Regions from separate parts of the Homo sapiens genome. Here regions 1, 2, 4, 5 and 6 are each linked to region 3. The links come from fine-mapping of genetic effects on gene expression. A gene starts in region 3. Each other region holds a variant in brackets. All regions are shown on one strand. Distances are from middle to middle.

Region 1 (5,076 bases), 280 kb after region 3:
TACTGTACCCAGCCTGTGGCTTTTTAAAAAAGTTTAAAAGTTTATGTTTCTGATTATTAAAAAGATATGTGCTCATTGTGGAAGGATTGAAAGTTCAGAATAGGAAAAATAAATGGGGGTTTGGGGATAAAGATAACTGATTATGCCACATCTTAGAAGCAACAAATATTACCCTGGTGATAGATTCCTTTTTGATCTACTTTTTATGCATGTTGTTACATAATTGAGAATAAATTAGAGCTATACTTTTTAATATTTTTTTCAAAACATAAAGTCATAACCAATTTTCTTTTTTTTTTTTTTTTTTTTTTTTTTGAGACGGAGTCTTGCTCCGTCACCAGGCTGGAGTGCAGTGGCACGATCTCAGCTCACTGCAACCTCCGCTTCCCAGGTTCAAGCAATTCTTCTGCCTCAGCCTCCCGAGTAGCTGGGATTACAAGTGCGTGCCACCACACCCAGCTAACTCCTCTATTTTTAGTAGAGACAGGGTTTCACCATGTTGATCAGGCTGGTCGTGATCTCGTGACCTCGTGATCCACCCGCCTCAGCCTCCCAAAGTGCTGGGATTACAGGCATGAGCCACCATGCCCAGCTGTCATAAGCAATTTTCTATGTGATAAAATGTTATATGTACAGATACGTGTGTGTATATTTATCGTTTTCATGGCTGCATATTATTCTATTTCTTTTTCTTTTTTTTAAGAGATGGATTCTCACTCTGTCACCCAGGATGGAGTGCAGTGGCATGATCATAGCTCACTGCAGCCTTGAACTCCTGGGCTCTAGTTATCCTCCTACCTTAGCCTCTCAAGTAGCTGGAACTATAGGCATACACCACCATGCCCAAGTAATTTTTTTTAAATTTTTTGTAGAGACAGGGTCTCACCTTGTTATCAGGCTTGTCCTGAACTCCTGGCCTCAAGCAATCCTCCCTCTTCAGCATCCCAAATCGCGGGATTACAGGTGTGAGTCACTGTATCTGGCTCCATTTCTTTTCACATAAGAAATGAAATTTGGCAACTGGGACACTTGAGGACACTAGGGCGATCTTTTACTTTCTCCCTCTTAATGAGGTACTGCTCTGGTTGTCAATTATTGCCTAATAAACCACCCTAAATTTGTGGCTTAAGACAACAATTGTTATATTTCCCAGTTCTGAGGATTGCTGGGCAGCTCTTTCTTCAGATCCTGCAGGTGGGCTCTTCATTGACGTCTGTCACCTGGGTTGGTCAACAATCTCTTACTCTATGAGGCCTCTTCTCGTGGCTAATTGTACTTCCTCATGGCATGGCAATCTCAGCTAGTCAGTCTTCTAATGTGTCAGCTGTCTTCTCCTGGAATGAGTATTTCAAGAGACCTAAGCAGAAACTGCAAGCTGCCTATCACCTAACCTAAGAAGTCTCACTGTCACTTCTGCTATATTCTGTTGGTCAAAGCAAGATAACCCATATTTGAGCGGGTGAAGGAACAGAATACACCTCTCAGTGGAGGAATGGCTTATGCACACAGTTAGGGATGGATTTGATTATCTTCATCATGGAGACAAGCTACCTTGGGTGTTAATGCACTTGTATGGAATCAAGAATTTGGCACAGGTAACTGTGCACTTCCCAGCCCCACTTTCCCCGGGCTACAGCAGAATAGAGCAAAAGGAGATGGAGGTATTTATTTCCTTCTTTAACATGTCAGTCCAGTATGTTTTTTAAGATCACCTTTATGTTTTAGTGACAGAGATTTTGAAAATCACTAGTTGGGATTAGTACAGAATTTTGTTGGAATTGACACAGTACTAAAATTTAAGGACTTTATTGTAGCACCGTGTGTGGTGGTTTTTTTTTTTTTTTTGGTATATACAGGAAAAAAAACATTCTATCATGATTTCTCTTTTATTTCTAAAAAATAGACAGTTGGGGCCTGCTGATAGGAAAAAGCCAACTGATATGAAATTATATTACATGAATTTCTGGAGTCAGTAAATGTAATAAACTTATGACATGTTTTTAAAATAAATTAATATCTGTTACATTCATCTAGCCTTAAACTTCAAAGAAGTGATTTAGAATGAACACAAATTTAGATGATTGAAGATCAATATTATATTTGTTCTGGAATTCTTTGCCTTTTTCTAACTGTCTTTTTAATCTCTGCAGTCCCCTGGTGAGTTGCTTTACTTTAAATACTCTGTCAAGCTCAGTGGGGGAATGTTCCTGGTTTCTTTGTCATTAGGATTGCCCTTGAGAGCTGTTTCTATCCTTAGGTGCTTTCATCCTAGCCCAGCTGGTTTTTGTATGTATAAAATTGTTTAGGGGAGGAAAGTCTGGGTAGATCTAGCTCTTCTCTGTCCATGCCTCTTTCCGCTGGGAGCCAGCAGATGGATGGTACCATAAGCAGCAGGGCACCCAGGTCACTGGAAATATTCTGATAGGGAGGAAGAACTGGGTGTTGGAAATCATCCAGAGAATGCTATGTCTTTTGGATAGG[T/C]GCTTTCAACATTGAGAGCCTCAGGAATGTAGGAGGGGTGAGAGTGCTATCCTTCTAATCAGCAGTTTATTTTCTTGCTTGCTTGCTTTTTTTTTTTCTTAAATAACTCCTTATCTTCTCTTGGCCTCTTGCCAGAATCCAGAGGCTTTACTTGAAATCTGTGCCTTTGCTTCCCACCAGCCACGTGCCAGGAGGGAATTCATCAGTTCCTGCAAAATCTACCCAGCTCCAGCCCTTCACATCCCCTCCTCTTGGACTCAGACCTGCTTAGACCTCCTTGTCCTTGGCAGAGAAGTTCTTAAATCTGCTTCCATGTGCTTGCTCCTGCTGCTCCCTTGGCAGCGTCAATGCAGCTGCAGCTGCAGCCGCCTCTGATTCTTTGCCACCCTTATCCTTATTGCTTACACCTTACCGTGACTCTCTTGGTTTGTTTCAGTGTTGTATCTCTTGTTAATTTGGTGGTTTTTTTGGAGAAGACATAGCTTTGGCATAACTTTGTCTCTAAGGAATTGAACTTCAGAGGCAGCTCACGATAACCTCCAGAAAGAGGACTTTTTCTGTTCTTTGTATTTTAATTAAGTATTGCTGATAAAATAAGCATCCCAGTGGTAGTGGCTTGAAGGGAGTGTCTGGATGGTGCCTGACTCTAGAGAGAAGTTGCAGTATAGTTTGCTGTGTGTGGATTCCCCCCTCATCTGCTAGAAATTTCTGAGAAGCAAAATGTCCCCTTCTTCTCCCTGTCCCACTCATTCTTTGAGTCATGGTATGTTAGGGTCAGGGAGTCCTACCACTCGTGTTTCTGCTCTGTGACTATGATTTGAACTTCCTTACTTACACAGATGGAGATGATCATGCTGGTCTCTCTGGAATGTGTGGCCGATTTCTCACATATTTATAGTTCTAGATTCCATATTGTGTTCATGGACAGTACTGCCCTTGACATCAGAAATGCAGTCTCTAGGTCAGGTCCAAGGGTGTGCCCGGCTTGCTCAGGAATCTTCTAAAGATGATTAGAGTTGGAGGTCTGCTTTTAATGTAATTTGTGGAATGCATTAAATACTTCACGCATATACATGCTGAGCTGCTAATTCCAATCCTGGTTTTCGTCCCCCTGCCAGAGTGTCACCCAACCTGCAGGCAGTGTCATGGGCCGTTGGAGTCTGACTGCATCTCCTGTTACCCTCACATCTCTCTTACCAATGGTAACTGCAGGACCAGCTGCAGGGAAGAGCAGTTCCTCAACCTCGTGGGATACTGTGCTGGTGAGTGAAACTCCTGTGGACTCCTCGGAAATCACTGGGCAGCTGCCGGGGCTCTTCATACCAGGCTTAAGGGGGCTCTTTGTCCTCAGTTTATGAGCTCTTTTATAGGAGACATTTGTTTCATGTCTGGAAACTCATGTTACTGCTTCTCCTTGGGCATTTAGTAAATACTTGTGGATTTAAATAGAACTTCTAATAATACTCTTGCAAATCCTGAAAATCTCAGACTCTCATATTAATGAAGAATGAAGTGATGATAATAGCACCTTTATATGCATTCAAAACTTCTTAAGATAGCAAAAAGTGTTCTGAAAATAAGTCACTCCAAGCCTTCCTTTCTCTTGTCTGCATTTTGTCCTGCTTCTTGTTGTGGAGAATCTTTGCCATCAGCCCCAGACACAAAATTTTAGAGAGATTAACCTAAAAGTAGATCAGTTGCCTTAGGAGATGGGATTTTTTTTTTCTTCCTCATTTTAGAACTCAGATCTAAAAAAAAAAATTAGGAAAGCAGTCTGAAATTTGAATAATGTTGGAACCAGACATCATTTATGTTCATCTATCTATTCAGACAACAAATGTGCATTTTTGAGTGCCTACTAATGGTCAGATGCTCAGAATACAGGAAAACGATGAAGGAGACAATGACTCCACCACCAAAGAGCCTATAGACTGGGGAGGGGAATTTACTGGGTAATGGGTTATTGTATATTTCTTGATCCACTTTTTCAAACTCTGGGAAAAACTTGCAGAGCTTCTCCTTTATTAGCTGTTGCCTCAGCTCAGAAGGGCTGAACTGGGGAGATCCTGGGATGCTACTGGGCAAATGGGAAAGGTGAGAAAGTGTGCTGAGAGGTTGACCAGGCTGTCAGGCTTGTTCTGGAGCAGGGAAGAGGCATGGCCAGTTGTCTAGATCACAGTATCCAGCAGGCACATTCAGTCTGGGATGGCGCTGACATCTCGGCTGTTCGGTCTGGTGGATTGAGGGTGGGGCGGGGCACAGCAAGTCAGTGGCTGTGCTCCCTGTGGCTGGTGGTGCCATGGTCCAGGTGACCCATTTATTTTTGCATATGACATTAAAGACTAGACATTTTGGTATTAAGGTCTATATCCTAAGAAAACCAAACTGTCAAGCACAGGGCTGCAGCCCAGAATGCTGGATTCGGAGCGGAAGCCCAAGTGTAGAGACTGTGCAAGCCTTTTAGGTGCAACAAAAAGTGGAAATTCAGAGTCCAGGATTTGGACTAATCAGAATTCCTATCAGCTGTAGGATGTGAGTCTATTGCTAGTGATGTTAGTCGTAGTCAGGACTGTCTTGGAAAGTGGGAAAAATGGG
Region 2 (5,076 bases), 57 kb after region 3:
AAAGCTATGTCAGCAAGTTAAGGTCGGGCATTTTATTTTTTTAAATTTTTACTTTATTATTTATTTATTTATTCATTTTTTTATTATACTTTAAGTTTTAGGGTACATGTGCACAACGTGCAGGTTTGTTTCATATGTATACATGTGCCATATTGGTGTGCTGCACCCATTAACTCGTCATTTAACATTAGGTATATCTTCTAATGCTATCCCTCCCCGCTCCCTCCACCCCACAACAGGCCCCAGTGTGTGATGTTCCCCTTCCTATGTCCATGTGTTCTCATTGTTCAATTCCCACCTATGAGTGAGAACATGCGGTGTTTGGTTTTTCATCCTTGCGATAGTTTGCTGAGAATGATGGTTTCCAGCTTCATCCATGTCCCTACAAAGGACATGAACTCATCATTTTTTATGGCTGCATAGTATTCCATGGTATATATATTCCACATTTTCTTAATCCAGTCTATCATTGTTGGACATTTGGGTTAGTTCCAAGTCTTTGCTATTGTGAATAGTGCCGCAACAAACATAAGTGTGCACGTGTCTTTATAGCAGCATGATTTATAATCCTTTGGGTATGTAACCAGTAATGGGATGGCTGGGTCAAATGGTATTTCTAGTTCTAGATCCCTGAGGAATCGTCACACTGACTTCCACAATGGTTGAACTAGTTTACAGTCCCACCAACAGTGTAAAAGTGTTCCTATTTCTCCACATCCTCTCCAGCACCTGTTGTTTCCTGACTTTTTAATGATCGCCATTCTAACTGGTGTGAGATGGTATCTCATTGTGGTTTTGATTTGCATTTCTTTGATGGCCAGTGATGATGAGCATTTTTTCATGTGTCTTTTGGCTCCATAAATGTCTTCTTTTGAGAAATGTCTGTTCATATCCTTTGCCCACTTGTTGATGGGGTTGTTTGTTTTTTTCTTGTAAATTTGTTTGAGTTCATTGTAGATTCTGGATATTAGCCCTTTGTTAGATGAGTAGATTGCAAAAATTTTCTCCCGTTCTGTAGGTTGCCTGGTCTCTCTGATGGTAGTTTCTTTTGCTGTGCAGAAGTTCTTTAGTTCAATGAGATCCCATTTGTCAATTTTGGCTTTTGTTGCCATTGCTTTTGGTGTATTAGACATGAAGTCCTTGCCCATGCCTATGTCCTGAATGGTATTGCCTAGGTTTTCTTCTAGGGTTTTTATGGTTTTAGGTCTAACATGTAAGTCTTTAATCCATCTTGAATTAATTTTTGTATAAGGTGTAAGGAAGGGATCTAGTTTCAGCTTTCTATATATGGCTAGCCAGTTTTCCCAGCACCATTTATTAAATAGGGAATTCTTTCCCCATTGCTTGTTTTTCTCAGGTTTGTCAAAGATCAGATAGTTGTAGGTATGCGGCATTACTTCTGAGGGCTCTGTTCTGTTCCATTGGTCTATATATCTGTTTGGGTACCAGTAGCATGCTGTTTTGGTTACTGTAGCCTTGTAGTATAGTTTGAAGTCAGGTAGCGTGATGCCTCCAGCTTTGTTCTTTTGGCTTAGGATTGACTTGGCAATGCAGGCTCTTTTTTTGGTTCCATATGAACTTTAAAGTAGTTTTTTCCAATTCTGTGAAGAAAGTCATTGGTAGGTTGATGGGGATGGCTTTGAATCTATAAATTACCTTGGGAAGTATGGCCATTTTCATGATATTGATTCTTCCTGCTCATGAGCATGGAATGTTCTTCCATTTGTTTGTATCCTCTTTTATTTCATTGAGCAGTGGTTTGTAGTTCTCTTGAAGAGGTCCTTCATGTCCCTTTAAGTTGGATTCCTAGGTATTTTATTCTCTCTGAAGCAATTGTGAATGGGGGTTCACTCATGATTTGGCTCTCTGTTTGTCTGTTATTGGTGTATAAGAATGCTTGTGATTTTTGCACATTGATTTTGTATCCTAAGACTTTGCTGAAGTTGCCTGTCAGCTTAAGGAGATTTTGGGCTGATACGATGGGGTTTTCTAGATATACAGTCATGTCATCTGCAAACAGGGACAATGTGACTTCCTCTTTTCCTAATTGAAAAATCCCTTATTTCCTTCTCCTGCCTGATTGCCCTGGCCAGAACTTCCAACACTATGTTGAATAGGAGTGGTGAGAGAGGGCATCCCTGTCTTGTGCCAGTTTTCAAAGGGAATGCTTCCAGTTTTTGCCCATTCAGTATGATATTGGCTGTGGGTTTGTCATAGATGGCTCTTATTATTTTGAGATACGTCCCATCAATACCTAATTTATTGAGAGTTTTTAGCATGAAGGATTGTTGAATTTTGTCAAAGGCCTTTTCTGCACTATTGAGATAATCATGTGGTTTTTGTCTTTGGTTCTGTTTATATGCTAGATTACGTTTATTGATTTTTGTATGTTGAACCAGCCTTGCATCCCAGGGATGAAGCCCACTTGATCATGGTGGATACGCTTATTGATGTGCTGCTGGATTCGGTTTGCCAGTATTTTATTGAGGATTTTTGCATCCATGTTCATCACGGATATTGGTCTGAAATTCTATTTTTTTGTTGTGTCTCTGCCAGGCTTTGGTATCAGGATGATGCTGGCCTCATAAAATAACTTAGGGAGGATTTCCTCTTTTTCTATTGATTGGAATAGTTTCAGAAGGAATGGTACCAGCTCCTCCTTGTACCTCTGGTAGAATTCGGCTGTGAATCCATCTTGTCCTGGACTTTTTTTGGTTGGTAAGCTATTAATTATTGCCTCAATTTCAGAGCCTGTTATTGATCTATTCAGAGATTCAACTTCTTCCTGGTTTGGTCTTGGGAGGGTGTATGTGTCCAGGAATTTATCCATTTCTTCTAGATTTTCTAGTTTGTTTGTGTAGAGGTGTTTATAGTATTCTCTGATGGTAGTTTGTATTTCTGTGGGATAGGTGGTGATATCCACTTTTTCATTTTTTATTGCATCTATTTGATTCTTCTCTCTTTTCTTCTTTATTAGTCTTGATAGTGGTCTATCAATTTTGTTGATCTTTTCAAAAAATCAGCTCCTGGATTCATTGATTTTTTGAAGTTTTTTTT[G/T]TGTGTCTATTTCCTTCAGTTCTTCTCTGATCTTAGTTATTTTTTGCCTTCTGCTAGCTTTTGAGTGTATTTTCTCTTGCTTCTCTAGTTGTTTTAATTGTGATGTTAGGTTGTCAATTTTAGATCTTTCCTGCTTTCTCTTGTGGACATTTAGTGCTATAAATTTCCGTCTACACACTGCTTTTAATGTGTCCCAGAGATTCTGGTATGTTGTGTCTTTGTTCTCATTGGTTTCAAAGAACATCTTTATTTCTGCCTTCATTTCATTATGTACCCAGTAGTCATTCAGGAGCAGGTTATTCATTTTCCATGTAGTTGAGCAGTTTTGAGTGAGTGTCTTAATCCTGAGTTCTAGTTTGATTGCCCTGTGGTCTGAGAGACAGTTTGTTATAATGTCTGTTCTTTTACATTTGCCAAGGAGTGCTTTACTTCCAACTATGTAGTCAATTTTGGAATAGGTGTGGTGTGGTGCTGAAAAGAATGTGTATTCTGTTGATTTGGGGTGGAGAGTTCTGCAGATGTCTATTAGGTTGCCTTGGTGCAGAGCTGAGTTTAATTCCTGGATATCCTTGTTAACTTTCTGTCTCGTTGATCTGTCTAATGTTGACAGTGGGGTGTTAAAGTTTCCCATTATTATTGTGTGGGAGTCTAAGTCTCTTTGTAGGTCTCTAAGGACTTGCTTTATGAATCTGGGTGCTCCTGTATTGGGTTCATATATATTTAGGATAATTAGCTCTTCTTGTTGAATTGATCCCTTTACCATTACGTAATGGCCTTCTTTGTCTCTTTTGATCTTTCTTGGTTTAAAGTCTGTTTTATCAGAGACTAGGATTGCAATCCCTGCCTTTTTTTGTTTTCCATTTGCTTGGTAGATCTTCCTCCATCCCTTTATTTTGAGCCTATGTGTGTCTCTGCACGTGAGATGGGTCACCTGAATACAGCACACTGATTGGTCTTGACTCTTTATCCCATTTACCAGTCTGTGTCTTTTAATTGGAGCACTTAGCCCATTTACATTTAAGGTTAATTTTGTTATGTGTGAATTTGATCCTGTCATTATGATGTTAGCTGGTTATTTTGCTCATTAGTTGATGCAGTTTCTTCCTAGCCTTGATGATCTTTACAATTTGGCATGTTTTTGCAGTGGGTCTTACCAGTTGTTCCTTTCCATGTTTAGTGCTTCCTTCAGGAGTTCTTTTAGGGCAGGCCTGGTGGCGACAAAATCTCTCAGCATTTGTTTGTCTCTAAAGGATTTTATTTCTCCTTCACTTATGAAGCTTAGTTTGTCTGGATTTGAAATTCTGGGTTGAAAATGCTTGTCTTTAAAGAATGTTGAATATTGGCCCCCACTCTCTTCTGGCTTGTAGAGTTTCTGCCAAGAGATCAGCTGTTGGTCTGATGGGCTTCCCTTTGTGGGTAACCTGACCTTTCTCTCTGGCTGCCCTTAACATTTTTTCCTTCATTTCAACTTTGGTGAATCGGACAATTATGTGTCTTGGAGTTGCTCTTCTCGAGGAATATCTTTGTGGCGTTCTCTATATTTCCTACATTTGAATGTTGGCCTGCCTTGCTAGATTGGGTAAGTTCTCTTGGATAATATCCTGCAGAGTGTTTTCCAACTTGGTTCCGTTCTCCCTGTCACTTTCAGATACACCAATCAGACGTAGATTTGGTTTTTTCACATAGTCCCTTATTTCTTGGAGGCTTTGTTAATTTCTTTTTATTCTTTTTCTCTAAACTTCTCTTCTCGCTTCATTTCATTCATTTGCTCTTCCGTCACTGATACCCTTTCTTCTAGTTGATCGAATCAGCTACTGAGGCTTGCATTCATCATGTAGTTCTCGTGCCATGGTTTTCAGCTCCATCAGGTCTTTTGAAGATTTCTCTGCATTGGTTATTCTAGTTAGCCATTCATCTAATTTTTTTTTCAAGGTTTTTAACTTCTTTGCCATGGGTTCGAACTTCCTCCTTTAGCTCGGAGTAGTTTGATCGTCTGAAGCCTTCTTCTCTCAGCTCATC
Region 3 (5,076 bases):
CCTCCACCCCCCCGCCCCGCCCGACCTTTATTTTTGAGACAGAGTCTCGCTGTGTCACCCAGGCTGGAGTGCAGTGGTGAGATCTCTGCTCACTGCAACCTCTGCCTCCCGGGTTCAAGTGATTCTCGTGCCTCAGCCTTCAGAGTACCTGGGATTAAAGGCATGTGCCACCACACGTGGCTAATTTTTGTATTTTTAGTGGAAATGGGGTTTCACCATGTTGGCCAGGCTGGTCTCGAACTCCTGACGTCGTGATCTGCCTGCCTTGGCCTCCCAAAGTGCTGGGATTACAGGCGTGAGCCACCGCACAGGCCCTACTTTCTAAATAAAAAGGGAGGGGTCTTTTTTTGGGAGGAGGTTAAGGCCCGCAGCTCCCCTTGATATGGCCGCTGCTCTCAGGCACTTAATCCATTATTTCAACAAATGTTTAAAGAGCACCTACTATGTGCTTCAATTATACAAAGATGATACAACCTCTGTCCCTAGAATGACCACAGCCCAACAGAGAGACTGAGGGCGAAATGTGCAAACCCTGGGTCCTCCAAATACTTAAGATTCAGAGCCAGGTTGTCAGAGGTTCTCCTTTGTTCTGGCTGAATAGTAACACTGACAGGGACCTGCCAGTTTCAAGTTATTCCAGTTATTCGGAAAAGTGAATTGTTCCAAGTGGCGTCAGTGCACGTTAGAACGTGGGCCCGCGTCATGGTGTTCGTGAAGACTGGAAACAAGTGGGACCCCCGCCAGCACAGCTCATGCAACTGCTTCCCCTCCAACAGTTTCGCCCATCCCGACTCAATTGAGGGACCCGAGACGTTTCTTCTCTGGGCCAATCAGAACCCAGTCAGCATCTCTCTGATGCAACTGTTCCCTTATAAAACGATTAAACGTGGACCAGCTATTTTTATTCGGTCCTATAAAAATAGCTGCCGTCAGTCAGTCCTGGCGGGGAATCAAGGCCTCTGCTCTTCAAGTGCGCGCCCCAGTCGGCCGTGTCCTGATGTTACTTTCCCAGCCATTGGCATCTGGGGGCGCAGCTGGACCCACAGCTCCCAGACCGCGTTGTGTTCCACTGACAGAGTCTCCTAGGGAAAGGGAAAGGTGCATTTGCTCTCAGGCTCCGCCTAGGACACACACACCAAGATCTTCCCGGGCTGCTGGTAAAAGCCAGGATGCAACAGCCTGAGGGTCCCAGAGCGAGGAAGAAGGATCAATCAGGTCCCCCGGACGCACTTAGTTCAGCAGGAGTGGCGGGCTGTGGGGGTGGGAGGTAGCCCCAGGGCCTTTGATGTGGGCACACGCTCCCCCAGCCCGCCGAATCGGTTCCTCCCCTAACAAGGGATGTGGACACGGTTCATCTGCCTTCCGGTGTGCCTGAGCAAGAACTGTGCAACCTATCTCCACCCCCTCCGTCCCCGGTATGAGCACTTTTGATTCCTCCCCAGACAAAGCCAATCTGAACTCCAGCAGAATGAATAAAGGGATCAGGTTGCTCTCCCGGCCTCCCCTCACCTCCCTCCTCGCTTCTCCCTTTCCCCACGTGACTCTCTGGAATTTCGCCAAAGCTCCGAGTCTCTGGGTCCATTTTCACACCGAGCAAAGCAGAGAGGAAGGAGGCAAGGGAGACTAGAGGAAGGCTGAACGTGTGTCCTTTAAACACGGGGTCCAGACCCGGCGTATTTTGGGCGTTTCCAGGCTCTCTCGCCAGAGTGGCCTTGAGTTTGGGGGTCTTTTCCAGCCTCGCTAGCTTTTTCCTCCGTGCAATTAAAATTATGGCTCTTCTTCCACTCCCGTAATCATTGCACCTCTACCCTGCAGACCTCCTCCGGGGTGTTCAGCGCGGAGGTGGGTGTTGGTGTGCAGCAAGCCGCGTCCCCGCAGCCCTCCTCACCCAGGCGAGGGGCGGGGACGAGAAAGTAGCAGCAGCGCCCCCCAGTCTTTCCTCTGAAGCTTCCGAACAGTCTGCTTCAGGGAGCGCAGCCTGAGGCGGTGTGGTGCGGTGCGGCTGCAGGGCGGGCGAGTCCCCGGAGCTGCCCTCAGCGCTGCACAGTTTCCAGCGAGCGGACCCCGGCAGATGAGGTCTGCCGAGCCGGGTGGCTCGACCAAGGAGTGGGTGTGGGTGGGTCTTTCGGGGCTCCCGGCGACCCGCGGTGCCGACGCAACGCCGACGTATGGTGCCAAGCGAACTTTAAAAAGCTGCTTCGGACAAACCAGAGCCAGGATTTCCACTGTCGGGGACCCGGGATCGGAAGGGTCTAGCCCGAGGGAAATGCTGGAAGATCCCATCGGCCAGTGACCAGCAACTTTCCGGCGAGATTTTGACGCGGAGAACTGTGCTCTGCCTCCTCTTATTCTCCCAAAGCTCACGTTGGCGTCCTGCCTTGCGGGGGAACTCGGCGCGCTCTCTGCCTGAGCAGCGAGTGAATTGAACCCCAGCCCGCTCCGGCGCCTCCGGGCTGATGAGTGTCGCTCTCCGCCCGTCCATCTCTTTTTCCCGGAGGTAAAGGCCCGCGGTCCCCCACCTTCAGTGCGCCCGGGTTCCAAGCGCCGGAGCCAGCGTTTTGGCGGAGCCGCTTCTTGGATGCTGAAGGCTGGGCTCCTCCATCGTGGGTGCCGAGGCGGCGATGGGTGTCCTCAAAGTGTGGCTCGGGCTGGCCCTAGCGTTGGCGGAATTTGCAGTATTGCCTCATCATTCCGAAGGTGAGAGAGCGGTGCCGCGTGTGTGTGTGTGTGTGCGTGTGCGTGTGTGTGTGTATGTGTGAGTGATCGTGCAGTTTAAAAATCTCAGCAGGTTTTATGGTATTTCGGTGAGGTGGAAGTTTTTCTGGGAAGGGTGAGGTGGAAGTGAAACTGGAATAGGCTTTTTCTGATAAGATTCCTACTCCTGATTGTTTTGTATTCGGATTACACCCCCGAAACGGCCTCCCTCTCTGCCCTAAGTGCTTTTGGGTGGGTGGGTGGCCGATGGAGGTGACATCTCTGAAACTGATCCTTTTTCTTTCCACCACCTACCTTTCCCCGAAGGGAAAGCAACTGCATGGAGCACAGGTGAGGAGCGAACAATTGCTCTTACCTGTTTAAAAATACTTCTGTTCCTAAGAAACATACAGTCTTTCATCTTAAAGCCCCATCGCTCTCCCGCCCTCCTTACCTCAGTTAGTCTCCCCCTAAAGTCCAGTTAGGATTTTATAACTAACTGGTTGGAGCGTGTTCTGGTCGTGGGCAGTTCAGTTGCACTGAAAGAAATCTCTCCAGTACGGAGAAGCACGAACCAGCCTGCTTCCCAGAACAAAAGTGGTTAATAAGAGTTTAGGTTCATTCTTTTACTTCACCCTCCGCCTCCTGGTTTTCCTCCGAGGCTCCAAGCTACCTGTAAAACCCCGGAGCCGCAGGAGAGAAAAGGAAGCCGTGAGACTAGTTGTCGCCATGATATCAAATGCAATCCGGGCTCAGCCAAATAAATGAGTCAATAAGTAAATCAAGAGTTTGGGGTCATGGGATGCCGGGCCTGGGGACGCGAGGCGCTGTGAGCTCCCTCCTGCTCCGAGGAGCCAGGGAAGTCGCCCCGCCAGTGCTTAGGGAGGGGGAAGGGAGCCGGCGGGCTGGGAGGAAGACGGCTTAATCCACAGCGCCTGGCTCTCGGCTTCCCCTCCCGGCTCCATTCATTATTCATCCAGCTGCGGGAAGAAGAGTTCACCTGCCCAGCCGCAAACCAGAGCCGCGGCTGGGCGGCGGCGGCGGGCGCAGGGCGGGCCGCCTTCTCCGCCCTGGTGCCTAGGAAGGGGCGCGGGGCGGCTCCCGGGAGTCGAGCTCTGGCGCAGGACTGGGGGCTGCGGGAGGCCCGGGGAGGACAAAGCTCTGCCTCGGGTCGACCTCCAGTCACTGGAGCAGCTGCCTTTTCTTTGCTGGCTTCCCAAGAGAAAGGCCTTGGGAATCCACGCACAAGGGTGGGGGACTTTCCCGTGGGTCCAGGTGCTGCCTTCTGCACTCTTCCGGGATGTGTGTCAAGTGTGTATAATCTCCGCGAAAGGCACATCTGGGGCCTGTGCAGCCTTCTCCCAACAGTGCAAGTCCTGTAGAAATATAACTTTATTGTTTATGTGCGTGTGGGCGCGTACTTTGGAAAAAAAAAAAAAAAGCTTGTAGGGCTTGATTATAACAATAAACCAGATGAGAGAGTCACCCCAGGCCACCCAAACCTGAACTTGGTACTTAGAAAAATTAATTTCACTTGGTGGCAGTTTTTAAAATTTAGAGTCCTATCCCAGCAACGCAGGAAACGTGCTATCACTCCCGGATAGCTCACCAGGGGGCAGTTGGAATGGTGCAGCTTGTCGGAACCAAAACTCTGAAATCAACAAAAGGCATTATTATTAAGAGCCTGCAGGGTGCGCTCTTTGGCAGATTGCTTGATCCAGTGGGCCAAGTTTAAGAAGTGCGGAATCTAGACTGGGAGGTGGGGATGGGGGGATGTGAAGCACAGAAAGCTGGGGGTAGAGACGGGGGGCGGGGGCGGGGGCGGAGAGAGGGTGTGGATATTACTCCAAAGAGTCTTTGGAAACTTTGCTTCTTATTGTTTGACTTTACTGTCAGAGCATTCTATAGCTGTTTCACAAATTGGATTGATAAATTGATAGATGTCTGAGTTTCCACCCACGTCATAATGGTGCTTATCTAATAATGAATGAATGAATGAATGAACATGGCCATTTATTGAGCAGGTATTGTTTGCCTGGCTCTTTGCTAAGCACTTTACATACTTTATCTCATTTAATTAGTTTAATTAAGTGATATCACTCCCACAGACAAAAAAACATTTGTCATCTGATGAGACCTCTGGTTTGGTCCTCTCAAGGTTTTCTTTTTCTTTAAAAAATAAGAGCATTGAGATCAAGGTTGGAAACCTCAAGGATCTTAGAAATCTCCTCAAGTTTTTATTATCAGCCTAGAGAATAATTTTTAAAAATAGAAAAGAGACATTCACATGTATACTTCTTTTGATGGGATGTACCTTGTGACACCTTTGCTGACCAGCTTATGGCAGAATTTGTCGTTTTCTTCTCAGTGCACAGAGAGAAC
Region 4 (5,076 bases), 240 kb after region 3:
TATGAAGATGAATGAGTGAATTCACATATTCCATTTAGGGCAGCAGTCCCCAACCTTTTTGGCACGAGGTACTGGTTTCATGGAAGACAATTTTTCCATGGACCGGGGAGCTGGGGGTGGCTTCGGGATGAAACTGTTCCAGCTCAGATCATCAGGCATTAGTTAGATTCTCATAAGCAGCTGCAACCTAGATCCCTCACATAGGCAGTTCACAATAGGGTTTGCACTCACTCCTATGAGGCAGAGCTTGGTGACAATGCTGCCTCACCCACTGCTTGCCTCCTGTTGTGTGGCCCAGTTTCTAACAGGCCACACACTGAAACTGATCTGTGCCTGGGGGTTGGGGACCGCTGGTTTAGGAGATGGTACCTGGTGTCTAGAAAGCCCTTCATATAAGTTTAGAGACTTGGGTTCTGCTTTCTATTGTCCTTCTTCCTTGTTCCTTTTATTTCATTTCCCCTTTCATTCTTTTTTGACCATTGTTCTAGGTCCTGAGTACATGAAGTGTATAAAGTAAATAAGATTCAGTCTTTGCCTATAGTGAGCTCACAGTCAAGGCAGGTTAGTTGTTGCTTATAGAGATGTAAAATAAAACAAAACAAACAAAAACAAAATCCAAAAGCCTTTGAAGTTTATTCTATATCTGAGTGCTGTATGGTCTCAGATTTTGAGACGTAAAGAATCAAACAACTGAACATTTTACAGGATTATAAGGGATAGGATTATTTTGAATGGCACCTCTACCACTTGCTGCAAGAGGGCTTTGGCAAACCATTTAACCTCTCTGAACTTCAATTTTTTCAACTGCAAAATGGGGACGATATTATCTACTTTAAACCATTATTATGAAGGTTAGAAAAGCTGTTTGAAATGTATAAATACATTATGCCTGGCCTTAGTATGTGGACTGTAAAAGGCAGCTATTGATATTATTGAAACCATTCCTTTATTTTTCAACCTATAGAGATAAAAACCAAATAGCTTTCATTAAGTAACAAAAAGCTTTCTGCCATTAATGTCTCATCTAAATAAAATCTGCTTTTATATGTTATGGAGAAGTAAATATATAGAGAACAGTATACTGTATTCTTTATAGCAAATTAAAATCCCTTTTTCTTTTAAAAAGGAAAGAAAATTTTAAGTGCTCAGATTAAACAATGAGAATCTATGATTATTTGTTTCTTAGCCAATATTGTGACATATTTAGAGGAAAAGTTTATAATAAAAAAACCTATAAAATTTACAACTAGGATGTTGACCTAGTTGAGATTTAAAAGCTGTGGCCTGAGCAGAGGACCTTCTGAAGTTAATTATTTGTTGGAACGATGGTTGACTGGAGCAGCCAGTCATTTGCAGAAATGAAGCACTGACCTTGCAAAGCCAGGTCCAAAGCAGCAGGGATTTAATGGGTCTTGGTGTTGTGTTCCAACACATGACTTATCCCAGCCTGGCTGTGCCCTGGGTGGACCTCTTGACAATGGCACCTATGAAACTACTGTTCTGAAATCCAGGAGCCCTCCTCGCAAGACAGGGGCCCCCCTTTCTCTGTTGGGATAGTCATGGCCAAGCTGGTGTCACCTCCATGGCCCTTGCAACATACCCCAGGATTGGAGGGTTAGTCTCAGTTTCATTGCCGGGTCACATACTCAGTTTAGGGGCCCTGCATGTTTCTACCACTGCCTTCACTCATTTTGTTCTACTCTTTAAATCCTATGCATTGTTCAGAACTTCTTTGGCATTCTACAGCAATTATGGTCCCTTACTAAATTGCTGACTGTCTCATAAAGGTGACTTGTTGCTTCAAGTGGTATCTCCTGTCTCTTCGATTCTGTTCATGCATAAATATTTGTGGAGCCTCTTCTATGTACCACGCCCTGTCCCAGACACCAGAGATACAGAGTGAAGCAGACAGAAAACTTCCCTCTAGTTAAGGAACTTAACTTCCTCAATGGGAGGAGAGTGCCTCTAAACAAATAAACAAGATAATATTAAATACTTAGATAGTTATCATTATATGAAATTATTATTATCAGTGCTATAAAGATACCTTACAGGGGAATATGATAGGAAATGATCAGTCATTGGGGCAGGGACATGCCGTATACTTCTGAATTTCACATGGTGCTAAGTATATCTGTGGCCCTCTGGAATAATTTTTGATAGAAAAAATGTGATAAACCATTGCATAGAGAGCAATCAACAGAAATGTACAGGCATGACTAAACTTTGGCTTACAGATGACCTATCTTCCATTTGGCTTCCACTATTTGCTCCTTGTCAGCAATTTCTGGCTAGTGGTGGCCTCAGGATAATTACAGACTCTCTATTTTTCTCACCCCTCTTTTTCTTCTCTTTTCCTCATGTTTAACATAGTTGTGGGCTTTATTAGAGTTGGGAATGTGACTTATAAAATCAACTGTCTTCAAAACTTGGGTCGTGTCCATGGAGTATTTCAGGCCATTCAGAAGGGAAGACAATAGGATTGCCTTCCTAGAATGTAAGTTTTTTTGAGTAAACAAGACCCAATGAGGCAGGTGACAACAGTGTTCCAAGGCCCCTCTCTCTTTGGATATTATATTCATATGCAGAAAAAATGGAGAGAAGAGGGGAAAACAGCTGGTGGTGTTGTGTCTGGGACCTTTGCTTTGGCAGGAAGCTGGCTGTGTTTGGCATTTGTCTTTGCCACTTCTAGACCCTTGCTGTGTATGCCAGAAGACAAATGACAGAACAAAAGTATCACATACCAGCAGAGAAAGCCTGCCACAGATGCCACAGAGTTTATCTTTCAGACAGATCCCATTCTTCC[C/T]GACAAATCTGAACCCCAAAGTATTTCAGCTATGGATTACAAACTAGTGACAAGTCTTCTGGCTTTCTGCCCAGTTTGGAAGGTTCTCAGTTATTTTAGCTAGACTGTATGGCATACGTTCTTTCTCTTCTCCATTCCCCACCCAAGCACTGTCCCTGTTCTGCCCTCCCCTGCTTCTATGCTGCTCACAGAGCTAACAGCACCTCCTTGTTGTTGCTGCTGAGATCTGAGCAGCTGTGTTAGTGCAGCCAGGAGGTCTGAAAACTCTCCCCATCAAAAGGTTGTTTTGGTTTGCGGTCCCGCCTTTGGCTCTTCAGTTTCAGTAGACATCACTGGAGTAGACAATAGGCATTTAATTAACAGGGGCCACTGGGTGTAGGATTGGGGAGGGAACACAGGGAGTCCTAGCAGCTGTGGATTTTCAGTGGTCACAGAGGATGAGTAGAAGCTGAGAAGCTGGTGGTCTTGAAAACCCTTGGATTATACCTATGTTGTCGATTTAGGAATATAGGTAGAGGGGCAGGAAATAGAAGAGATAACTTTACCAGATACTCCTGATGAGCTGAATGTCTTGCTTTGTCCTCTGACTTATGAAGCAATGAAAGGTCCATGTGGACCTGCCAAAGCCTTCATTGGCTGGGAAGTAATTTCCTTTGGTTCAAGTTCTGTGTCTACCAAAGACCCTGCTAAAAATTCAAATATATTACTCAAGACGGGTAAATCATTCAGCTGTATCACAATCATGGTTAATAGGTTAACAAGTTATTTACCTAGCATGTACCTTAGGGAAAAGGACTATAGCTTTCCTCCCTCCATCATTAGGAAAATTACCAAAATTCCCCCCAAATACCAAATGAATTTATGTTTATTCCAAAAAAAAATAATTAAAGTCAATAAAATATAAGGTATAATAAAAAGTCAGCTAAAATTTCTAACTCAAACTCCCCTAAATCACTACTGTTAGTATTTTGGTGTATGTCTTCCTAATTTATAAAGATATCTTTTTGTGTGTCTATACACATACACTTTTTTTTTCAAAACTAAAATCATACTCTATTTACAGTTTTATTGCTTGCTTGCTTTATGTTATTACTTATCCTTCTACAACATCTTTTTAAACCTGTTGTATAATTTTCCATCTCTGGCTATGCAATCATTCATTTAGCCAATCCTCTATGGTTTGATATTTGTTCCCAATTTTTTTAATTATATGTAACCATGATGTAAACATTTTTAGTAGAAATTGTGGTAAATATTTTTGAATCAATTTTTAGACATGTGACTACCGGGTCCAAAGGTTTATGTACAGTGTTTAAGCTTTTTGACACAGAGTAACATATTATACTCTTTTAAGAAAGTTGTACTAATTTGTACTCTTACCAGAAATGTATAAGGGTGCCTACTTGCCAGCACTCTTGTCAACACTAGGTATTACAAGCCTTCTTAAATTGTCAATTTGATTGATGTAAAATGAAATCTTGTTTAATTTTTATCTTTTACCTATTTTGGGGATTCTTATGAAGCATGTGGAGTTAATCATGCTTGTCAGTTGATGGCCCATTTTCATCATTGGTCTGGGCCAAGCTATTCTCTTGCTTATTTGTCTGCCCATCCATCTGCCTGTCTATTCCTTTTGTTATCATGCCCTATTCCCATTCTCCTTCTTCCCAGCTCCCCTTTTAAATAACTACACTAATGTGATTTAGTGTGTACTTTTTGTATGTATATTCTCTTATTGTTTTGTATGCCTGAGTAGATATTTCCTTCTTTTTTTTTTTTTTTAGATGGAGTCTCACTCTGTCACCCAGGCTGTAGTACAGTGGCGCAATCTTGGCTCACTGTAACCTCCGCCTGCCCAGGTTCGAACGATTCTCCTGCCTCAGCCTTCTGAGTAGCTGGGACTACAGGGGTGTGCCACCACACCTGGCTAATTTTATTTTTTTGTATTTTTAGTAGAGACAGGATTTCACCATGTTGGCCAGGCTGGTCTTGAACTCGTGACCTCTAGTGATCCACCCGCGTTGGCCTCCCAAACTGCTGGGATTACAGGCACAAGCCACCAAACTCAGCCAGATATTTCCTTCTTTCTTGACTTTTTTTTTTCTCACTAAGCAGTGTTTCTAGGATGCATACATGTTATTAGGTGGTGCAAAAGTAATTGCAGTTTAAAAATATAATGTGCATGTCTCATCCAGTGCATCTAGTTGCTGCTCTCCTGTTTGGTTTGCATATCTCCAGCTTTTGATGATGCTGAAGATTTTTTTTACGTG
Region 5 (5,076 bases), 370 kb after region 3:
TCATAGGCCTCTACATAATTCATACAATCAGTAATGATATATGGCAGATTTTTATATTTTATAAAACAATTTACAATAAAAATTGTACTATTTAATTCTTATAACAATATTTTAAGGATGGATATTATTTTCAGCATTTTAAACCTAAGGATACCAAGTCATTAAGAGTAGATAACCTGGCCAGGTGCAGTGGCTCACACCTGTACTCCCAGCACTTTGGGAGGTGTGAGGAGGGAGGATTCCTTGAGCCCAGGAGTTCAAGACCAGCCCACGCACATAGTAATATTCCTTGTAGTCTCAACTACTCAGAAGGCTGAGGTGGGAGGATTGCTTGAACTGGGGAGGTTGAGGCTGCAGTGAGACATCATTGTGCCATTGCACTCTAGCTGGGTGACAGAGTTAGACCCTGTCTCAAAAAAAAAGTAGATGATCTGCTCAGATTTCCACAGCAGGTAGACAGTAGAAGCAGGATTTTAATACAAGTTTCTGACTTAGAGCATGAGCATGGAATAGCTAGTTTAGTCTGACATGTATGTGTGTTGGTTATGAAAAGTGAGTGTCATGGTAGTATGCCATTTTGGTTTCCAAGCCTCAACTCTTACCTGAAAGCTTGAGTAGGTGAAGGGTTAACAATTAACTTGTCTAGGACTTTAAGTTAAATGATCTTGAACCTATTATACAGTCCCATGGGCCTAGACCTTGGGCTGACCTTAAATTATCTTGCTTCTGCCAGATGTTCCTTTTTTATTGATTTTAAAGAAGAAAAACCCTTGGTATCTAGTAGAAAGCCATGTCGTTTTGGAGAGTTTTGTGAGAGAGAATTTTAAATTGGACAGTTAATGAATAAGGCAGGAAAAAGCCCAAGAGCTGACATTAATTTGTAGAATGAAGGAGAACCACCCATTTTGGTGAATCAGCTAAGATGAGAAGGAAGGCTGATGTTCCTGGGACCTGACTGACTTTAGGACAAATGCAGAAGCTCTGGAGAGCAGTTCTGAGCAAGGAACACACTTAAGGCAAGTGGTGCTCACAGGGGCATTTAGCCCAAAAAGGCATTTGACTGTTTCTCAAAGAAATTAGAGACATTCCTTAAAGAGAGGGATAAATATGCAGTTGCTGACATTTTGATTGGAAGTTTATATGATTGCTTGCAAAACCCTGCACCCAAGTGATAGCTAGTTATGTAATATGCACCAGAAAATAGCTTTTTTCCACTTACTTACAGAGTCAAGAATATGCCTTGTTCACACTAAACAGCTGTATGATGTGACCAAAGCTCTTTAATTTTGTACCTTTTCCCTCCTCCTGTAAAATAAGGATGTTGAAAGCTTCCTGGACTTCCTCCCTGGTATGGTTTGAATGTCCCTTCCCAAACTCATGTTGAAACTTAATCCTCAATGTGGCAGTATTGAGAGGTGGGGCTTTTACAAGGTAATTGAAACCTGAAGGCTCTGCCCTCATGAATGGTTTAATCATTAATGGATTAGTGGATTAATGGTTAATCATGGGAGGGGAGCTGGTGGCTTTCTAAAAAGAGAACAAGAGACTTAAAATCACAAGCTCAGCCCCCTCGCCACGTGACTGCCTACACTGCCTCATGACTCTTCACAGAGTCCCCAACACCAGGAGGCTCTCACCAAATGTACCCCCTCAACCTTGGACTTCCCAGCCTTCATATGTGAAAGAAATAAATTCCTCTTCTCATAAATTACCCAGCTTTAGGTTTTCTGTTATAAGCAACAAAAAATGGACTAAGACATTCCCACTCAGAAATAAAACTAATGTAAAATATAAAGTAAAATAAAATTGCATTTTGCAACTAGTTCTTATCTTAGATTACAGAGACATCAGAGCATCCTGAATCCACTAAAACTTATGAAAAAGTTTGTATGCTTGTCACCAAATCCCCAATAATTAAGAACCATCTGTGCCTATTTTTGAAGATCCAGAGAGGAGATCAAATGTAAAGAAGCAATGACAATAATTTTGACACTTGTCTGAATGACCAGAGCCATAAAACCTTCATTCTCACATGGATAATGTCGTCTTACCTTCAATAGGGCTGTTTCTGAACATCTCCAAGACATGGAGTGTACCTTATAAAATTTAACCATATCTTTCAGATCTGTCTCAAGGGAAAGACAAATCTAAAACTTGAATAGAATCATTACTACACGTCGCTGAGCAATGCTTGACTTTGCTTAAGCAAGATTCTTGCTGGCTTGTTAGTAAGTCCAGAAGAAAGTGAGGAAGGAAACTAGTTTCTCATAACCAACACATAGACAAGCTTATCACACATTTAAAATAATTAACAGTGCAGTTTTCTTAAAGACCACTACAGATAAACACATTGATGAGCTGATGATGCAAATATCCCTCCAAAACTGGCTTTTGGGGAAAAGATAGGGTGTTAAGTTATGGAAAAGTGGAAATAAGCATCAAGGGTGAGGCAATTCTGCTCTCGTATTTTCCTCAGAGATGGATGTTCACTTGGATGTCAAAAAATCCAGGGAAATAAAATCTTAAGGTCACTGTTTTGTTCACTATTTATGTCATTGTGCATCATGACCAAGTAAAAATGGATCTGCTTACTTCCAAACTAATGACATTAGAGACATTGGTATGGGTATTGTCTGTCCTTTTAAAAAGTATTCTTTTTTTTTTTGAGACGAAGTCTCGCTGTATCGCCCAGGCTGGAGTGCAGTGGTGCAATCTCGGCTCACTGCAAGCTCCGCCTCCCAGGTTCACGCCATTCTCCTCCCTCAGCCTCCTGAGTAGCTGGGACTGCAGGTGCCCGCCAACATGCCTGGCTAATTTTTTGTATTTTTTAGTAGAGATGGGGTTTCATCGTGTTAGCCAGGATGGTCTCAATCTCCTGACCTCGTGATCCGCCTGCCTCGGCCTCCCAGAGTGCTGGGATTACAGGTGTGAGCCACTGTGCCCGGCCAAAAGTATTCTTTTCTAATGAGACATAGAC[T/A]TGCCACTTCTAAAAGAGTTCATGAAAGAAAATATTTATTTGGAATAATAAGGGAATGAATTGAATCAAGAAATATTTCCATAATCAAAAGCCTTTACCAGTAGCATCTATGGGTGCAGATTTTGTGTTACCTTCCTTTCCACTAACATTTATCAAGATCACCTTTGTTGTGAAAGTAGCCTCTTAGAATGATTTTGTTATTATGGTTCTTTATCTTTTTTCTTATCCATAGAAAAAAGAATAGCTCACAGTATCTTGCTTGCTTACTTTCTTCATTTGTAAGCATCTCTTCAAAGGTTAAAGTAGTGCAAAAAAGTTTCTAGCTACATATTTGTGGAAACTGCCTGAAGAGGACCAGACTACAAGTTGATTCGTGTGTGTGTGTGCGTGTCTCTGTGTGTGTGTGTGTGTCTCTGTGTGTGTGTGCATTTATCCTTTTTAGTTTCAGATGGAGAACACACAAGTCCGGAGATGGTCCTCACCATTCACTTACTTCCCAGTGATCAGCAACTGCCAGTGTTCCAGGTCACAGCTCCACGGCTGGCGGTCAGCCCAGGAGGCAGCACTTCTGTAGGTAAGAACTGGGAGCCTGATAGAAACATGGCTTTGGAAATGGGATCATATTGCTGCCCCTCTTCAAACCTCTTGATGGTTGCCAAAAAAGCAAACTCTTCTTCCAGAAGTTGCCTGCATTCTCACCTGTATCCTTCCTCCTGCCCATTTCTATGCAAACAGAAGCCGCACAGAGAGAAGGAAATGAAGCCTTCAGAGGCCAGTGTTCAGTGGTGGAACACAACACAGAACTGATTTTCCGGGAGTTTGCTTTGATGCCATCACTAAAATATAAAGTAATAGAGCGGCGAGAAGAACATAGAGGGGAGCAGGATTTCAATGGCGGCTCTTGTTTCTATTTAGAAAGTGAAGAGTAGCAGGAGAAATGTCAGGTCACAAGAAGCTTCAGAAGTTGTGAAGAACTAGAGTTGACCCAGTTATTTTGTATATAATTATATGTACTAATTAGTGAATTTAATCTTTAGAAATGTATTCTTTTATCAAGAACATTTTACTAATAAACAGTAGGTATTGTGATTTTTGTTAGGTGTGTTCTAGAGATCCTTATCCAGTTTCTACATATGGGGTTTGGCCTAAAATTAATTTTTACCAAACTTACAAATAAGCCATGTGTACAAGGATGCCTGTCACTTTAACCCTGCACCTCACCTTTGTGATCATTGCTCACTTGGCTCTTTGTAGCTTTAGAAAAATAAGAAGGGACAAAACAATGAAATGCCAAACAATTTATAGGAGGATTTTCTGGAAGAAAATCTAACCCAGCTAGTCAGGGTTGACCTACCTGTGGGCTTCCTCTGTGCATGCTGTCATTTGTATGGAAGAAAAAAGGTGTTCTAAATTCAGAACTACCTTACATGAACTTTTGGAAGCACCTACTTGCAGTGTAGGAATTGACTGTATTATCTGTTTTTACTCTTTTGTGCCTGATTGGAATGAAGCAGTGCTTTCTGATAACAATCAGATTACCCACAGCATGACTCCTAGCCTGGCCTGCGGTTTTAATATATAGTCTATCGTCTTTAACATACGCTTTCTCTCTCACCACGCTTCCTTCTCCTTGCTGCAGGACTTCAGGTGGTAGTAAGAGATGCTGAGACAGCGCCCAAAGAACTCTTCTTTGAGCTTCGGAGACCTCCACAGCATGGTGTGCTTCTTAAGCATACAGCTGAGTTCCGAAGGCCGATGGCCACAGGTAGCTACACACCTACACACTCTGTCACTGACCTGCTTGGAGGATTTTTTGCTCTACAATCAGTTGTTATGTGTCTCAGACGAGAGCAAAGCGTCTTTGTGATACAGACTATGAGGAGCTATTTTGTGTGTAGTTTCATTGGCTTTGATATTTGAGACTTCTTCGTGTTCCCACTTCCATCCCTGCCCCACACCTGCCCCCGGCCCCACCTTGAACCCTGTGAAACCAGTTCCTTAAACTATAGGTGAAATGGGTGATTTCTGAAACTTGGAGTAAATGCATTCAGAATGACACCATATGAGGGATCAGCTGCCACTTTCCTAGCACTGTTCAT
Region 6 (5,076 bases), 22 kb after region 3:
TATAAACAGAAAGCAATTAAAAAGGGTAAACAGTAGTGTTTTTCAAAAACCAAACCACAAAACACAGAAACACAGTATCATTCCAACTTTTGAGGAGGAAGAACTTTCTTTTTTGTTTTTTTCTAAGAGAAAATGGCCATGTTGCTTTATTTATTATACTGAAAGCAATACAGCCTTGTTCTAAAAAAAAAAAAACAGCAAATATAAAAGAGAGAATGGGAAGAAAACTCCATGAATCCAAGTAATTCCACAAACAAAAATAATTAATACTAAATATTAGATGAGTTTATTGCAGAACTTTTCCTATGTGTGTATTTAACAAAAATGGGCACTGCAATATGCACACTGTTTGGCTAGCTATTTTTTTAACTTAATACTGTATAATAGATATCTTTCTATGTCAATACACAGTTCTATACTATTATTCATTATGGATAGACTATAAGTTATTTTACACATTCCTGTTTATTGGTATTCATATTAATTTGATATTTTGGTGTTGTAAGCAACACTGTGATGAATGTTCTTGCGCACTCTTCAATTATTTCCTTTGGGCACATTCCTTAGCAATGCAACTTTTGAGTCATGTGGTATACATTTTTAAAAAGCATGTTTGTCTATACATTTAATACATATTACCACATTGCCCTTTGGGGAAGTCATACTAATTTACACTGCCATTAGTTAGTATATTCTCTGACTGTAAGGTAAGGATAAAACCTTGGTAAGAATAAAACCAACATTTAGTTTGAGAATGATTAATTTTTAAAAGTTGATGGAATAGAAGATGGTATTAACAAATTTGATGACATTTAAAAATATCTAATAGTGTAAAACTAAAAAGAAAAAATAAAGTACAGGTTTTCAAAGATTTAGTGTTACAAAGAATTACATAGTAGAACTTATAAATAATTCATTCAATAATAATTAAGAACAAAAAAATTTAAAAATGTAAATCTAACCAAAAATAATTCATGTAAGTATTTAAGAAACCACCAAATGTTAGGAATTAAAGTGGCTGAGAATAAGAATAGAGAGTTTACATAAGAGAAAATACAAGTAGCAAACAAATATATTAAGAAGAATTGTTGTTAATAACCAGGTAAAAACTAAATCAGTAATGGGATATAACCTTATACCTGTTTAAAAATTTTAAATTATTAAACCCAGCTTTGATGAGATTTCTGGGAATTTGCCCTAAGAAATCAATTTAGAAGAAAGAAAAGTTATTTGTAAAGAAGTTGCTTTCTGGCATTATGTATGTTATAAAATAAGAAGTTACCTAAATGTCTCTATTAGAGGAGTGGTTAAGTAAATCATCGTAGATTAACTTGACATAGAACATTATGTAGCCATTAAGATAATAGATGAGAAGAGCATGTGGCCATGATGGCACATTTCTGAGGTAATGTTAAGTGAAAGGCTGAGTACTCAATGCAAATCTTGTGATTAAAACTAATTTTAAAAATGTGTCTTTCTGTGATTGGGGTCTCATAAGGGGGAAAAACCCCATTTTTTTGTCAACAAGAGAGAGAGAGCTTGTAAGTAGAGGGTAAGGAATCAGTGGAGAGAAAGGACAGAAGTTGAAAGAGTGAAGAAAAAATGGCTGAAGAAAACCAAGAATGGACCAGATAGATGGGGTGGAATCAAACCACAAGTGGCAGGGACAACTTAGACAAGGTTCTTTCTCAAAGATAGGAGCAAAGTAAGATAAAGTCTATGAAAATTATATTATTTAGGACTCTTAATGTGAGTAATGGAAACTCAACTCAAACTAGCTTAAGCAAAGTCTGTAATGTTCTGCTCCCTCAACTGAAAGTCCAAGGGGATAAAATTAGCTTGAGACTGAGGTATATATGCGTTCACATGATGTCAACATGTGTTTTTCATGCTATCTCTCTTGGCTACACTTTCTTCTGGGTTGGCAGCCTCCTTGTGATGGCAGCATTGATTTATACAGTTCAAATGGCTAATATTCCAAGAGAAAAGTGAGTCCCCTTCAGAGATGCTATCTCCGGCAAAAGTTCCAGAAAACACTCTGATTGTTCTGGCTCAAGTCAAGGATCATACCCCGAGGTAAAATCACACCCTCAATGGGGAAGAAGAAACCTTATGATTTACTACACAGCCAAGTGGAGGAGGGCAGTTCTAAAAGTGAAAGCA[C/T]GCTGGCCAAAGAGAAAGCAGCAGATGTTCTCTACAAGGATAAATAGACATTTGGAGGCAGCTTGGCTTGCTTACAAAGTCTTAAGTGAGAGCCGCCATCTGCCTGGTTGGCCTAATGAACGCTGCTGGAGAAAGCATCATCGGAACCAGGTTTCCTATCTCTTAACTCCCCTTTGGCCCCAAAGGGGCCAACTTACACTACAGGTGGAATGGCATCTCACCTTGCAGCAAATCAGCTCTCTGGCAAACTCACTTGTTTGGAACACAGCTAAGAAACAGGAACTAACAATAAAAGGCCTGTGAAAAGCCAAAATGGATACCACTGTGCCTCTGCCTCGAGAAGCCTGATTGATTTATTCCCCTGGGGAACAGAAAGCCGACTGCTTGCTGTCTGCACTACCTTGGGCTAGAAGAGGAGGCATAATTGCGGTATTCAGAAGTGTCCATTAGATAAGAGGCTGATGTGCTCAGGTGTTCAGGAGAAACGGATGAATGTATAGGAAAGCACTTTGGCCAAATATTTGTGAGGCTTGTTTCTTTGTAACTGTATAGACTTAAAATCATTTTTTTCTATCATAGGCAAGAAGTCGATTAAAGTATCAAATCTTTTGTAAGTGGAATAGCTTTTATCTTAATTGGATACATTCTATGGTTCAGAGTTTGTGCATGTGAACAGTTGGTATGTATCTGCTTTGGAAAATACTGTGTGAAATAATATTTTCTATGCTCAGTTCTGCTTTTGTCATAATTACATAGTTTAAACTGCATACATCAATTGTACAAGCAGATACATGTAAGCATTCTGTAGGTGCATATTAAGATGCATTAATTTTGGGCTCACAAATGCTTTACCACTCGAAATTCCTTTATAGTTTTGGAATATTTATTTTCTCTTCTCATCTTCCATTTCTGTGGCAAGACTATTTTTGTTTCTCTTTTAAATCCTTCATAGTTACATTACCTTTTAAATCTGTCCCAGGACGTCTTACTGAATCAGACTTGAAACTGGGATGTGCAGGCAAGTGGAGATGGGCTATGCATCCCTAAAATCTGTCCTCTTTCCTGTGCTGGAGAAACACGATCTGTCTGTCACAGAAAGCTTGGGTAAATGTTAAACCAGTGTTTAGCTACATACCTTGATTTGTTTGGGGCCTAGGATCCCCCTGGAAAAGAGCTTCAACGCTGAAAACAACTGGAATTCAGACATCTAAGGTCATGTGTTAAAGACTGTGAGGATGGGGGTTTGTGGGGCTGCAGAAAGGAAAGCTAGACTGTAAAGGGCAACAACAGGTTCCCTGAGAGAAAAGTCCCCACAAGGGAGAATATTGGCCTCGTGGAAATCTAGACCAGCAACTTCAATAGAACTTTCTGCCACAGTGAAAATGCTCCATATCTGTGTTGTTTGCTACTCACATGTGGCTACTGAGCACTGGAAATGCAGCTAGTGTGAAAGAGGATCTGGATTGTAAATTTTATTTATTTTTAATTAAATTTAAATAGTTATGCATGGCTAGTAGCTCCCATGCTGGGCAGTGCTGGTATAGATTTTGTAGCAAGACTGTGATGCCCAAAGAAAGCAATGATTGTAGGTAGTTCTGGGCTACATGTGAACTCCCCCTATCCAGCCTCTCAGAGCCATTGTTTACCTGGAAAGGAGAGGGGTAAGGGGGTGAAACCAAAAGAACATATTAATTGAGTTCAGACTTTCTGAGAAACCTGGGCAATAAATTGGCAAGAACCTTATCACTAGCTTTCCCAGCCCCTCTGTGGTAGGTCCTCACTTACCTGTTTGTCTTGGCTAGAGATAGAATCTGGGAGCCTCAGAGTCAGAAGGTAGACAGTTAAGGAAGTCCAGGCCTGAGCAGCTGCCTCAGGGCATCGTAGCTGATGGATGGATGGACAAACACTCTTCTTACCTAAGAAAGCTTCCTTCTTTCCTCCTCCCTCCTTTCTCAAAGAACCCTGGTTTGTTTTTTGGCATTCTCCTTCCTTACGCCATATCCTTTAGAAAAGGAGGGCTGCTTCTCAGGCTTAGTGATTAATTTTCTTTGGTTTAAGTCTGTGCTCTTCTTGTTTAAATTCTTTTTTTCCCGCATCTTACTCATATTCCACTCAAATAGTTTGAAAACCATGTACCTCCTTACACATTTAAAATATTATATCTAACATTTTTTATCAAAAGATGCATGAGTTGCAATGTCTGTAAGTTTTTGCATTTGAAAAATGACACTTTAGGATAGAACTATGACGTCCCTCTCTAATGTTTCCAATAGAATCTGAATACTATAGCAATTTGATTCCCACTGGCACCCATAAAAAATACACAAACTCTTCTTTATTGAAAATATATGTCCTTTCTTTTTCTCACACTTTCACTTTTGAGGCAGTTTTCCTATGGAATTTATCCTATTACCTTTATGCTTGAAAGTCTTTTACTGATCACCCTATTATACTTCTCTGCAATGAAATACATATATAAATTTAAATTTAAAGCATTTGTAATGTTTCCTGTGAACATAAAGCTCAAAGTGTTAAGTAATTTCCTTTGGATTGAGTTATTACAGTTGAGCAAAACAACATAAATACATTAAAATTTTTGATAAATACTTGTTAAATGTTAGAAAGTACAGTTTCATTGGAAATGCATCTCTTAATGAGATGAATGGGGCTTTTTTTTCTTCTGTTAGTTCATCCAGGATGCATATTATTTATTGCTACAGGAGACAGGATTCAGCATCAGTTCTATTCTTATTTTTCACTTGTCTAGATGTAAACTTTGTGGAATTCATTCACATAATAAGTAGATAGGAAAGGAAAGACTTTGTTATAGTCTCTTTGAACTCCTTCTGAATTATAGGCCAAAATCAATTAATTGATCCTTAAAAATTATTTTTAATGATCAGCTGAAAACTT

Which allele goes with the higher level. Alleles are on the strand shown, and positions count from the first base shown. SD is a standard deviation of normalised expression in the study named.
For the expression in lung of the gene that starts at base 1,935 in region 3, allele T in region 1 goes with a lower level than allele C (small effect, 0.36 SD a copy in GTEx).
For the expression in prefrontal cortex of the gene that starts at base 1,935 in region 3, T is the high allele of the variant in region 2 and G is the other (small effect, 0.29 SD a copy in ROSMAP).
In carriers of allele C in region 4, the expression in aorta of the gene that starts at base 1,935 in region 3 tends to be lower than with T alone (small effect, 0.39 SD a copy in GTEx).
In carriers of allele T in region 5, the expression in tibial nerve of the gene that starts at base 1,935 in region 3 tends to be lower than with A alone (moderate effect, 0.70 SD a copy in GTEx).
For the expression in cerebellar hemisphere of the gene that starts at base 1,935 in region 3, allele C in region 6 goes with a lower level than allele T (moderate effect, 0.47 SD a copy in GTEx).

What was found. PIP is the estimated chance that this variant, and not a neighbour inherited with it, causes the effect.
Region 1: its variant is fine-mapped to the expression of FRAS1 in lung (TOPMed, PIP above 0.99). The same link has a PIP of 0.9 or more in spleen.
Region 2: its variant is fine-mapped to the expression of FRAS1 in prefrontal cortex (ROSMAP, PIP 0.92).
Region 4: its variant is fine-mapped to the expression of FRAS1 in aorta (GTEx, PIP above 0.99).
Region 5: its variant is fine-mapped to the expression of FRAS1 in tibial nerve (GTEx, PIP above 0.99).
Region 6: its variant is fine-mapped to the expression of FRAS1 in cerebellar hemisphere (GTEx, PIP 0.95).

What each region holds. Positions count from the first base shown.
Region 1 is chr4:78,334,075-78,339,150 of GRCh38, forward strand. FRAS1 (Fraser extracellular matrix complex subunit 1) reads left to right here. Exons shown (of 74, transcript NM_025074.7): 20 at 3,600-3,743. Among named protein-coding and RNA genes, the nearest start is that of SNORD161, 48 kb to the left of the region's middle. The variant T/C (reference allele first, on the strand shown) is at 2,482.
Region 2 is chr4:78,112,758-78,117,833 of GRCh38, forward strand. All of the region lies in intron 2 of FRAS1 (Fraser extracellular matrix complex subunit 1), which reads left to right. Among named protein-coding and RNA genes, the nearest start is that of FRAS1, 58 kb to the left of the region's middle. The variant G/T (reference allele first, on the strand shown) is at 3,058.
Region 3 is chr4:78,055,389-78,060,464 of GRCh38, forward strand. FRAS1 (Fraser extracellular matrix complex subunit 1) reads left to right here and starts at 1,935. Exons shown (of 74, transcript NM_025074.7): 1 at 1,935-2,697. The coding sequence starts at 2,622. RefSeq lists an enhancer at 521-1,492.
Region 4 is chr4:78,291,176-78,296,251 of GRCh38, forward strand. All of the region lies in intron 14 of FRAS1 (Fraser extracellular matrix complex subunit 1), which reads left to right. Among named protein-coding and RNA genes, the nearest start is that of SNORD161, 4.7 kb to the left of the region's middle. The variant C/T (reference allele first, on the strand shown) is at 2,807.
Region 5 is chr4:78,425,676-78,430,751 of GRCh38, forward strand. It overlaps FRAS1 (Fraser extracellular matrix complex subunit 1), which reads left to right. Exons shown (of 74, transcript NM_025074.7): 36 at 3,420-3,551; 37 at 4,617-4,742. Among named protein-coding and RNA genes, the nearest start is that of ANXA3, 120 kb to the right of the region's middle. The variant T/A (reference allele first, on the strand shown) is at 2,978.
Region 6 is chr4:78,077,724-78,082,799 of GRCh38, forward strand. The region is part of intron 2 of FRAS1 (Fraser extracellular matrix complex subunit 1); the gene reads left to right. Among named protein-coding and RNA genes, the nearest start is that of FRAS1, 23 kb to the left of the region's middle. The variant C/T (reference allele first, on the strand shown) is at 2,164.